2 linked regions of the Homo sapiens genome follow. The protein of the gene in region 1 purifies or fractionates together with the protein of each later gene. This does not show direct contact. Each region holds a gene or a part of one and is shown in the gene's direction. Other genes may lie near its edges. The genes, in order: POLR1F and RRN3.

The links.
Region 2: the proteins of POLR1F (region 1) and RRN3 purify together in Homo sapiens (affinity purification with mass spectrometry; 3 studies listed by BioGRID and IntAct, with this or other methods). This does not show direct contact.

Annotation. Positions count from the first base shown.
Region 1 is NC_000007.14:19,694,961-19,699,334, reverse strand, and holds the end of POLR1F (DNA-directed RNA polymerase I subunit RPA43), read left to right. Parts: intron 1-607; coding exon 608-1,019; 3' UTR 1,020-3,874; downstream 3,875-4,374. UniProt on the Homo sapiens protein: Component of RNA polymerase I (Pol I), a DNA-dependent RNA polymerase which synthesizes ribosomal RNA precursors using the four ribonucleoside triphosphates as substrates.
Region 2 is NC_000016.10:15,063,143-15,070,439, reverse strand, and holds part of RRN3 (RNA polymerase I-specific transcription initiation factor RRN3), read left to right. Parts: intron 1-185; coding exon 186-370; intron 371-2,162; coding exon 2,163-2,271; intron 2,272-5,068; coding exon 5,069-5,221; intron 5,222-7,156; coding exon 7,157-7,244; intron 7,245-7,297. UniProt on the Homo sapiens protein: Required for efficient transcription initiation by RNA polymerase I (Pol I). Required for the formation of the competent pre-initiation complex (PIC).

The DNA of each region.
Region 1 (4,374 bases):
TAGTGCTACTGTATAAGACTGAAGTTCTGGAGAGAAAGCTACTTCATCGATCCATGTTTTATTTTAGTGGTGTAAAATAATTCACAATGTTAAAGTAATACTATCTTAGTATCAGCTAAGTAGAACAATGGACTATTATTTGAAACAAGATTAAAATAGTAGACTGGAAACTCCATTGCTTTGATAAATACCAGATCATATTTTCTATTAGATGTCAGTGGTTTGGTTAATAAGCCTAGGTATTGTGGTGTTTAATGTTCAGTGACCAAATTTTTCTGAAACAACCCAAAACTTGGAAGACATGTTTTGACAAGATTTTTATGTCATTTTTATGTGTGGAAACAGTCTGGGAGAAGTTATTCATAAAGAAAGAATTTAACATTTAATGTTAAATTTAACATTTTTCAATTTAACATTCAGCAGCCCATACATATTTTAGTGGGTTGAGGGATAACAGGATAGAATATTTGGAATTTATGCCATGGTTATGTGTCTTGTACTGGAGTCATTATTTAGAAAATCTTAGCCTGTTGGGATATCTTGATCTCAATTTGTTCTTTGTTTTTTGCTTATTGTTCTGTTAATTTTTTTAACTGTTAATTTATAGTTTACAATTCAAGCGCTCTGAAGTTTCTGAAGAAGTTACAGAAAATGGCACTGAGGAAGCTGCTAAAAAACCTAAAAAGAAGAAAAAGAAGAAAGACCCAGAGACATATGAAGTGGACAGTGGTACCACAAAGCTAGCAGATGATGCAGATGACACTCCAATGGAAGAGTCAGCCCTGCAGAATACTAATAATGCGAATGGCATCTGGGAGGAGGAGCCAAAGAAAAAGAAGAAGAAGAAAAAGCACCAGGAAGTTCAGGACCAGGACCCTGTTTTCCAAGGCAGTGACTCCAGTGGTTACCAAAGTGACCATAAAAAGAAAAAAAAGAAAAGAAAACACAGTGAAGAGGCCGAATTTACCCCACCTTTGAAATGCTCACCAAAAAGAAAAGGGAAAAGTAATTTTCTTTAGTGTATTTTAAACACGATTCAGTTTTTAAAAGATCGATCTACATACAATAGATGAATAAATGTTTTCAGTGATATGAAAAGGTTAAGTATGCCAGTAGTTTACAAAACAGAAAATACTTAACTAGGAGTAGGAGGCTTTATATGCTAAAAATGATAAAACTGACTGTAAATTAATTTGGGGAAAGCCAGTATTGTTAAAATACCATTTTATACAAAATAAAAAGCTGCTCTCACTGTCAGCTCTCATATTCTTCCAGGTTTTGCACTCTACATAAAATTATTTCTACAATGTCAAGACTAGCCAAAGGACTTTATAATACAATATTATATTACTAAAGAATGAGTTAAGTTTGAGATTTTGATGATTTGATTTTGTGTGTGTTTAATAGGCTTCACCTTATTACATGCTATTTTATTTTGCTTTTTTAAAAACTCAGGACATTAACTAATTTTAGGTTTTCCTTTATCATGGCTTTCTACAGTATTTCTATTGTTTAACATAAAATAGTTTGCCAAAGAAGTTTCTGAAGTCTTCACAGCTCTTAAAAGCCAGGCCAGTACTGACTGTGTGGTGGTAAATGCTATTCATTATTTTCTTTTCTTTCTTCCAAGTGCATGTGTGTCCTTGTCTTCTTAAGTCTGAGAGGTTGCTGGAAAGGACTGTTTTCTTGTACTTGTTCATTTGTGCCTCAGCCATTCTAGTTTTGTTGTGTGTTGGAGGACAGTCTAATGAAGACAGGATAAATGTGATTCTGACTAGTGGGAAATTTCAGATTACTTTTTAATGATTGGAATGGGCTATAAGATATTGTGCTGAAGAGAAAACAGTTGTTCTGTTCACTGCTTTCATTGAGAAAATGTGGAATGTCTCTTGACTAATTGACAAAGTGTAATGAAATGACAAGCTGGTTGAAGCTGGTAATCAATGCATGGCCATATTTATTCATTTTCCACACACTTGACCATCTACTTTGTATAACACATTCTGCTAAGGCCCAGGGATACAATGGCAAACAAGATAGATGTAGTTCCTTCCCTTGTGGCATGTCATAAGAGAAACAGATGTGCATATACACACAATAAATAAGAAAATTAATAATTGTATTAAGTGGTATGAAAAAAAGGGGGAGGATTGTTCACTCACTGTTACCTGTGTTAGTATCTGCAAATGCATGAATGGTTGAACTCCCATGTCAGCATTTTTGTTGCCATTTATTTAGTACCAGACATAGTGCTGGTCTCACAGCTTAATATTTGGTAATGAATAAATTCTGCTAGTGGTATATGTTGATCTGAACTTACAATGATGGGATATAGAATTGGCAGAGTGGCAGATGTTCACAATTGTCTACAAGTAGATGTGCTAGACAATGGAAGGATGCAGGCCAACCTCTTTGATTACAATTGAGATTCATGTGACTATTGAGCCCTGGAAATGTAGCTTGTCCAAATTGAGATGTGCTGTCAGTATAAAATACATACCAGATTTTAAAGATGTACCAAAAAATGTAAACTATCTCAATTTTTATATTGGTGAAATCAATATGTCTTGGTATAGTGGCTTAAATAAAACAATTTTAGCCTTTCTCAGTTTATTTTTCTGCAAAAAGATTAAAAATTGTACATGAAGCTCATGTTAACTTTCTTTTGGTCAGTGCTATTTTAAAGGAAGTATGAGTTGAAAAAAAATTGAAATAAACTATATCATATTACTAGGACTTAATATAGTGGCATACCCAGGAAATGCTTAGTAAGTGTTCCCTTCACATTTTAAAATTTGAGTATACAATCATGTTTGACAATATAGAAATTTAATTTTTAGTGAAACAATTCTAAACCCCTTTTCCATAGACACAAGAAAGATGGCAAATTTATGCTATTCCTGGAAAAATACATTGTGGCTTAGCAAATAAGCAAGTTCCCACGTTACTTTTGTTTTGCTTCAAGTAATACTTCTGCCAGTTGTGTTTTATGAATTAAACAGGGAACGGCATGCTGAACTTGAAACTAGATTTGTTCCTGCTTTTTTCACAATGTGAGTAGTTTTGAAAAGTCAGATCTGGCCATTTGTCTTTCCTAGAATAGCATAACTTTGTTCATTGTTTTTTTTGTTTGTCTTTCTGACACAGAAAGACTGATGATGGTGTCCACTATGTATTCTTCAAAACATTTGGCACATGCTGCACTAACCTAGTCTATCTTTTCTATCTTGGAATTTGCTCATACAAACCCTATAGCCTAGACTAGATCCCTTACCCTCTCTCCAGTTCCTATCATTCACCCATTTCACTGTGCAAGACACCTCACTAGTCACCAGTGATACAGAAATGACTTTTAAGCAGTTTCTGCTCTTAAGGGCTTACCGTTTTGTCTATAAGATACACAAGTATAAATGACAAGTACAAATAACAATGAATGTTTAATGCTTTACGTTTAGTGTTTAAGCTTGTTGTTGGAAGAGCAGCATTTTGACCCTTGGAGAAGAAAAACTAGCTGTGGCATTCCAGGTGGAGAACCTGACAGAGGACTAAGAAGTTATCTAATGTAAAAGACCTCAGGCACCACCTTCGCATAAACTTTTTCCAGACAAGGCTAAATGTGCATGCTTCATAACCATAATTCTTATTTTTCTTTAATAAATATTTTTCTACTTGTAACACTGTGCATTATTTCAAACTGTTTACCTGTTTGTAAAGCTTGTCTCTTAATCAAATTTGTCTTGACCAAATAAGTTTCCTGAGGGCTGGAATTATGCCTTAACTATATCTATAGTATTTAACAGTGAATCCTTTGTATAATGAAAGCATCAACAGATAATTTTAAATTGATAAATAAAAAGCACAGTTTCAAATGGTATCACTTGGCCTCTGATGTGATATTATTATTTTCACTTGTTTCAATAAATGCATCTTTTTTTTTTTTTTTGGCCTATATGTAATGTGGTTTTTAAGCACTTTTATCACTTTAGTGTGTCAGGGATAGAATACTTAAAAATGACAGAAATTTGATCTCTTTTAATTTGTTTTATACATTCACCACATGGGTCATCTTTGCCTTTTTTTCTCAAAAAGTAGATATTTTGTTACAAAATCAATATATATTTGTTTAAAAATTCATATAGTAAAAGTATATACATCTTCCCACTCTACCAGTCATTGATCTCCCTCCCTATTCCTCCCCACACCACACACACCCACTTGGCAATTCTGCTTCCAGAAATAACCACTATTGTCAATTCCATGTGTAGTTTTAGAGATTTTTAAGTAGTGAATTTTAAAATGTTTTAAGACATGGAATCAAACTACCTGCACTTTTTGGGTCTACTCTATTTTATAGTAAATGTCTTCCCATATGAA
Region 2 (7,297 bases), on another chromosome or scaffold:
TTGTCTTCCTACGCACCCATCCTTATCCTTCCTTTCTTTGCTTTTCCTCTGTACCCATGGGTATTATTTAAAGAAACCTATGAACTTACTTAGCATGGTTTGTAATGAAAGGCAGTTGTGTGTTTTTATGTTATTCTGGTTTTTTTATGATGTGTAAAGTTGACTTGAATTTTTCTTTTCTCTAGTACTGTAAAATCATGCCTAGATCTTTTGGTTAACTGGCTGCACATATACCTTAATAACCAGGATTCGGGAACAAAGGCATTCTGCGATGTTGCTCTCCATGGACCATTTTACTCAGCCTGCCAAGCTGTGTTCTACACCTTTGTTTTTAGACACAAGCAGCTTTTGAGCGGAAACCTGAAAGAAGGTCAGTGTTGTGGGAGTGCTGGACTGGATTTTCCTTGTGTTCTTGTCACCCTTCAGAATGGTGATTCATTACTTTTTTGAGATTTTTATAAAAACTGGATTCAGAAAACTGCATGTGCACTCAAACTTTTAATAATAATTTCAAGCAGCTCATAGGCCCCTACAAACCCCTTAAGATAGATTTGAGCTTGAGAACCCTACAAACCCCTTAAGATGGATTTGAGGTTAAGAAAGAGGTTTCTGCCTTTGAAAGTTTGAAATGTGAAGATGTCTCCAGAGGTGAGGCTGAGCCCTGGGCTGTGCCAGCGCCCTGTACAAAGCTTCAGTTGGATGCACCTTCTCTTTGTTGTCCTTGTAACAGCCCAGTAAATGGCAGGTATTCTCCCTTTACAGACAGCACTAAAGCACAGGAAAGTCATTTTCCCAAGATCACATGGTTAGTGGCAGGATTAGAAAACTGAAGCCAGGTTTGGCTGACCCTAAAGTTTGAGTTTATATAGATTAAACTCTGCCTGAAGCCTTGAGACTTAATTGACCAGTATTGTTTTGCTAATTTCTAAGAGTTACTTATAATTCAAATCTGTCAGTTGAAACTTATTAGATTAGTGTATTTTAGTTGAAGAGAGTCTCCAAGAACAGTGTTTATAAGTCATTGTAAATTGTTCTGTTTATGTTTATGAATAATTCTTATGGTTTTGTGGGTCACTTCCTCTAAACCGGGGTCTCTGAACCCTGCACGATTGCCATTTGGGCTGCATCATCCTTCATCGTCGGGGGCTGTCCTCTGCACTGTAGGATGTTTAACAGCCTCCACCTACTAGCTGCCAACAGCAGTCCCCGACCACCCCCAGCTGTGACAACTAAAAGTGTCTCCAGATACTGCCAGGTGTCCTCTGCGGGGGTCGCAGTCTCCTTGGGTTAACAGCCACAGCTCTAAACTGAAAGTTGTATGTGTTGCATTATATATGTTTACCTACATCCTACATGCTTCTAAAAGATGTTGTATGAACTAGTAGGATGAGGTTTTATCACAAGGTAAGTAAATACAAGCTCTGCTTTTCTTTGTATAAATTAATGCCAGGAATCTGGATTAAATATCTTGTTTTTGTAAGCTGTGACATCCCATTTAGGTAATTTTTATTGAAATACGTATCAAAGAAACTCCTAAGAAAATATACTTAAGTACAAGTTGGTCAGCTTGCCTCTTAAAATAAATGTGATGTCTTTATTTTACTCATGTAGAAAAGAATTATATTCATTAAGTCTAAGAAAGTGGTTTCTGTCTAAATTTGCCGTCCGTTGAGGTAGAAGGCAAATTTGGAGTTTTCTTGTTTAGAAAAAAAACTACAGATGACTACTGTGCACCTGAAAACAGCACTCAGCTTCACTAACAAGACATGCAAGCTAGAATCAAATTGCTGTTTTGTTTTGTTGCCTGTCATGATTGTTAGCTGAAACCAAATCACAAGGTCTTTTCTCCCTCTGTATTATCTCAGCATACACTGAGCTTGCAAACATATGAATTTCACATTGTCGTGGAATCTTACAGCCTGCTACTTCCTAAGTTTTCTTTAGAGAAGCTGCCTTGGTGACCAATGAATGTGGTTAGCCTAGTGATACTCTTCTGGGCCATATACTGTGTGACTATCTGCATGGACCTTTATTTAAAGCATTTCTGCAAATAATTTTTTAAAGTTTTTTTTAAATGTGTGATAATTTGTGCTTTTAAAAGTATCTTACACTTTTCACTTATTTGTACCTTTAAAAAAATCTTTTTTTTTTTTAAACCAAAGGTTTGCAGTATCTTCAGAGTCTGAATTTTGAGCGGATAGTGATGAGCCAGCTAAATCCCCTGAAGATTTGCCTGCCCTCAGTGGTTAACTTTTTTGCTGCAATCACAAAGTAAGTTATTTACGCTTTCTTGATGGGAGTTATTTAAAATATTTTTATTTATGTTTATCTAGTATTGTAAGAGTGTTAAATTTCTATGAAATTAGTAACATTATAAAAGGCCAGGCGTGGTGGCTGACACCTGTAATCTCAACATTTTGGGAGGCTGAGGTGGGAGGATTGCTTGAGGCCAGGAGTTAAAAGACCAGCCTGAGCAACATAGTGAGACCCTATCTCTACAAAAAAATTTTAAAAATTAGCTGGGTGTGGTTGCCTGTGCCTGTAGTCCCAACTACTCAGGAGGCTGAGGTAGGAGGATCACTTGAGCCCAGGAAGTCAAGGATGCAGTGAGCCCTGATTGTACCACTGCACTCCAGTCTGGGCTCCAGAATGAGACCCTGTCTCTTAAACAAACAAAAACAACCCAGTCCTTGCAGGAAATACTGTGATACAGCTATTGTTTTTATACTTTGATGGCGTTGGAAATTACTACTACTTCTTATCCAAAGGGCAGCACTTTGAAATAAGTATGGCAACCAGTAAGCTGAGAGGGGCAAAGCCATAGATGCTTATTAGAGTGACTCCTGTAATAGTAATAGAAATAAACTGGACATGAGGCAAATGTTGACCTGTAAGAGATTGGTTTAGAGAGTTCTGTTCTCTCAGGTCTGGTAGCTATGGCTAATCCATAGCCTTTCCTCTGTGCCAGGCAGTTCTAAGCACTTTACATAGAACTCATTTGATCCTCTAGGATGAAACCCTGTTTATCAACAGGGAGGTGGAGGTACAGAGAGGTGAAATCACTTGCCTAAAGTCATAGAGCTAGACTGGCAGCACAGATTTAAATGTAGTCTGGCTCCTTTGTAAGCTTTCACTAAGTTATTCTGCTTTATGGAGAAAGCGAATTGGAGAATTGAATATTCAATGAGGATATTTAGGCCGGATCATAGCTTAAAATCTTCAACAGATAAGAGCCAACAGCTTGCTGAGCTCCGTCAGCCTCTTTAGTTCTCCTTTGCTAGGCGTCTGGTTCAAGGTGTCCTCTCTTCTGAGTCTCAGTGATAGTAAAGGATTAGGAAAAGGCATAAAGAGACCAATAAGCAACGGCAGTGAGTGGGTGGAGGCTTCAGCACGTTGGTTAAGATGGTGAGCAGCTCAAAGAGTGAGGATGGATGAAGCAAAGCAGAGGCCGCTGCCCCTGGTATGTTCTCGGGGTGGGGACAGAGGACTGCATTTGTGAACCATCTGGTCCAGGGGCTCTCGATTTGGGGTTGGCATGCGCATTGGAGGCACAGAGTGTGATGCGATGTGAGGCTAAGAGCAGGGGATTGAAATAAAAGTCTCTGCCTAGGTACAGATATGGTAAATAAAGGCGTGTACCATTCTGTAGCTGTTGCTTTTGCCTGCTTGATGCTTTTGAGATTGAACCATATTGACACAAAGCTTTATTTTGATTTTAACTGCTGTGTTATGTTCTGGGAATCTTTTTTATTGAGTCTTTGTTGGGATTTCATCTGTTAGTTTTTGTCTTTTTTTTTTTTTTTATTTGAGACAAGGTCTTGCTCTGTCACCCAGGCTGGAGTACAGTGGCGTGATCTTAGCTCACTACAACCACCACCTCCGAGGCTCATGCAGTTCTCCTGCCTCAGCCTCCCGAATAGCTGGGACTACAGGCGCCTGCCACCACGCCCAGCTAATTTTTGTATTTTTAGTAGAGATGGGGTTTCATCATGTTGACCAGGCTGGTCTCAAACTCCTGAGCTCAAGTGAACCGCCTGCCTCAACCTCCCAAAGTGCTGGGATTACAGGTGTGAGCCACCGTGCCCAGCCGGCTGTGTTAGTGTTTTAGTGCTCAGGAACATTCTTGTGTGTGGGCACATGCTTCCTTGTCACACACCCGGAAGTGCGGTCAGCTGCGGGGTTGTAGGAGATGCAGATCTTCAACTTTACCTGATAGTGCAAACCACCCTCCAGTGTGGTTTTGCTGATGTGTCCTCCACCAGGAGGAGGGGTCAAGTGCTGTGAGCCTTGGCTAACAGGACAGAAATCAAAGTATGTGGCTTGAAGTTGCCATGGTGACCTGAGAACCTGAGATGGAGAGTGACAGAAGTGAGATCTGAGTCCTCATCTTGGAGAAGCTGTCCAATAGATAATTTTTCAAGTTGCTCAATCATTTAGAGACAACTACTGGAAAAATTAAAAACATAATTGTCTTTATTTTATGTTTTCTTCTATGCATTTAACTGTTCTCACTCGGCATGCCTAGTCCTTTCTGTGCCTGTTTTTGAGGTCATGACTTAGTCAACCCCGTGTCCCTCCTTCAGTAAAGGCTTATTTCTTTTTCAGTGCTTCTTCAGCAAGTCTCTTCACCAACCACTATTTCCTCCTGAGTAACTCCTGAATCCCTTTACCACCAACCTTCTAATTCTTTTGCAAACAGTAAAAATAAAGACACCTATAGTTACGTAATCTAAGAGTTTTGCCTTGCAAACATTTATTTTTAATGAATAGTATCTATTACTCATTAAAATATAATGAATAATATCTATTACTCATTAAAATATAAGCCCAGTTTCACATTCTGAGTGATAGCCACGTTTTCTTTCTCCTTAGCAAACTTGCAAATAGAAGACCCATAGAACGGTACCCTAAAAGTGTTACTTTCTGCTTTATATTGTTATTTTTACTAGCACTTGTTATATTCAGCAATTTCTCTGTGGTAGGTACAGTTGTCACACGCAGCTCACATCTGCACCGAGTCACTCCAGCATGTTAATGCCTCTGTCTGTGTTGTTTTTTTGTTCCACAGTAAGTACCAGCTCGTCTTCTGCTACACCATCATTGAGAGGAACAATCGCCAGATGCTGCCAGTCATTAGGAGTACCGCTGGAGGAGACTCAGTGCAGATCTGCACAAACCCGCTGGACACCTTCTTCCCCTTTGATCCCTGTGTGCTGAAGAGGTAGGTACTTTTAAACATTGACGCTGGAGGAGGTGGATTTTTTTTTTTTTTTTGAGACGGAGTCTCACTCTGTCGCCCAGGCTGGAGTGCGGTGGTGTGATCTCGGCTTACCGCAAGCTCCGCCTCCCGGGTTCACACCATTCTCCTGACTCAGCCTCCCGAGTAGCTGGGACTACAGGCACCCACTGCCACGCCTGGCTAATTTTTTGTATTTTTAGTAGAGACGGGGTTTGACTGTGTTAGCCGGGATGTTCTCGATCTCCTGACCTCGTGATCCGCCCGCCTCGGCCTCCCAAAGTGCTGGGATTACAGGCGTGAGCCACCGCGCCCGGCCAGGAGGTGGATTTAAACGTGATACATGTTTGCTTTTCCCAAAATTGGGATTTAGGGCTCTTCACCAGAAGTGGCCCTTCCTCGCTGTTGATGAGCATCTCGTGGTCTCCCTGCGTATATTTCACCAGATGCAAAGTAGAGGATGCCTAGCAGGACTTGCCGAGTGGCGCAGGCACCCCAGAGTGGGTAGATCTTTGCCTCACTAGGAGCCAGACTGACATCAAGGGTTTTTTGTTTTTTGTTTTTCTTTAAACTGTTATTTAAACATGTAAGGTTAATGGGGATAATGGTGCCAGGATAGGGGAGGGTGCTGTCTTTTCTTGCTTCATAATTTTCTGCCAAGTGTCTTGTTCCTTCCTCTAGAGACCACATACCATTCTGTTGCACAGGATAAACGAAAAACAAACGATTGGCTGGGCGTAATGGCTCATGCCTGTAATCCCAGCACTTTGGGAGGCTGAGGCGGGCGGATCACTTGAAGTCAGGAGTTCAAGACCAGCCTAGCCAAGATGGTGAAACGCTGTCTTTACTAAAAATACAAAAATTAGCTGGGTGTGGTGGTGGCGCCTGTAATTCCAGCTACTCGGGAGGCTGAGGCAGGAGAATCTCTTGAACCCGGGAGGTGGAGGTTGCAGTGAGCCGAGATTGCACCAATGCACTCCAGCCTGGGCGAGAGAGTGAGACTCTGTCTCAGAAAAACAAAACAAAAAAAAAACAAAAAGCGATTTATCTAGATGAGTTGTTCTAGAAAACCACTGGGCCAGCCTTAACTTGGCACTTGTATAAGGAAGCAGGATTTTTGCTTATTATGGTTTCTAAAATAACTAGCAGCATCATGACCATCTGGGATTGTCTGGTCCCTGAAGTCTTGGTTGACTGAAACCAGATTAGTTGTTTTTCCTAGACTTACTTTTCAGCAAATTACTACAGAAATATAAAAAAGAGAGTTCCAGAATATTACGGTTTCATTTCCATTTGGATATACTGTATCTAACTGACTTGTGAGTCTTTGTAAAGTTTAGAAACAATTTCACATGAAAATGGAAAGATGAAAAACGGTAGTTCAATACTCCATCGACATGAGTGAATGAACTCTTATACAGAAAGAGCCACATTAGTTACAGCATTTACATAGAGGGTTGTTTTTTTGTTTTGTTTTTTTCTTTTTTTTTTTTTTTTTTGAGACAGAGTCTTGCTCTGTCTCCCAGGCTGGAGTGCAGTGGCGCGATCTCGGCTCGCTGCAAGCTCCGTCTCCCAGGTTCAGGCCATTCTGCCTCAGCCTCCCGAGTAGCTGGGACTACAGGTGTCCGCCACCACACCCGGCTAATTTTTTGTATTTTTAGTAGAGATGGGGTTTCACCGTGTTAGCCAGGATGGTCTCGATCTCCTGACCTCATGATCTGCCCACCTCAGCCTCCCAAAGTGCTGGGATTACAGGCGTGAGCCACTGCACCCAGCCAGGTTTTTTTTAAATGTAATTATTTAAGCTGTAGTTTTCACTTCTTGGTTTTGGGTAATAGATCTTGTGAGAAAAGATCCAAACCAATTTTGACTTCTGCCGAAGTATTTAACTTGACTTTGAAATGTGATCTTTGTTGACAGGTCAAAGAAATTCATTGATCCTATTTATCAGGTGTGGGAAGACATGAGTGCTGAAGAGCTACAGGAGTTCAAGAAACCCATGAAAAAGGTCAGTTTGTGATTGATTGAGCACACTCTCGGAATCTCCTTTCTGGTTCCAGG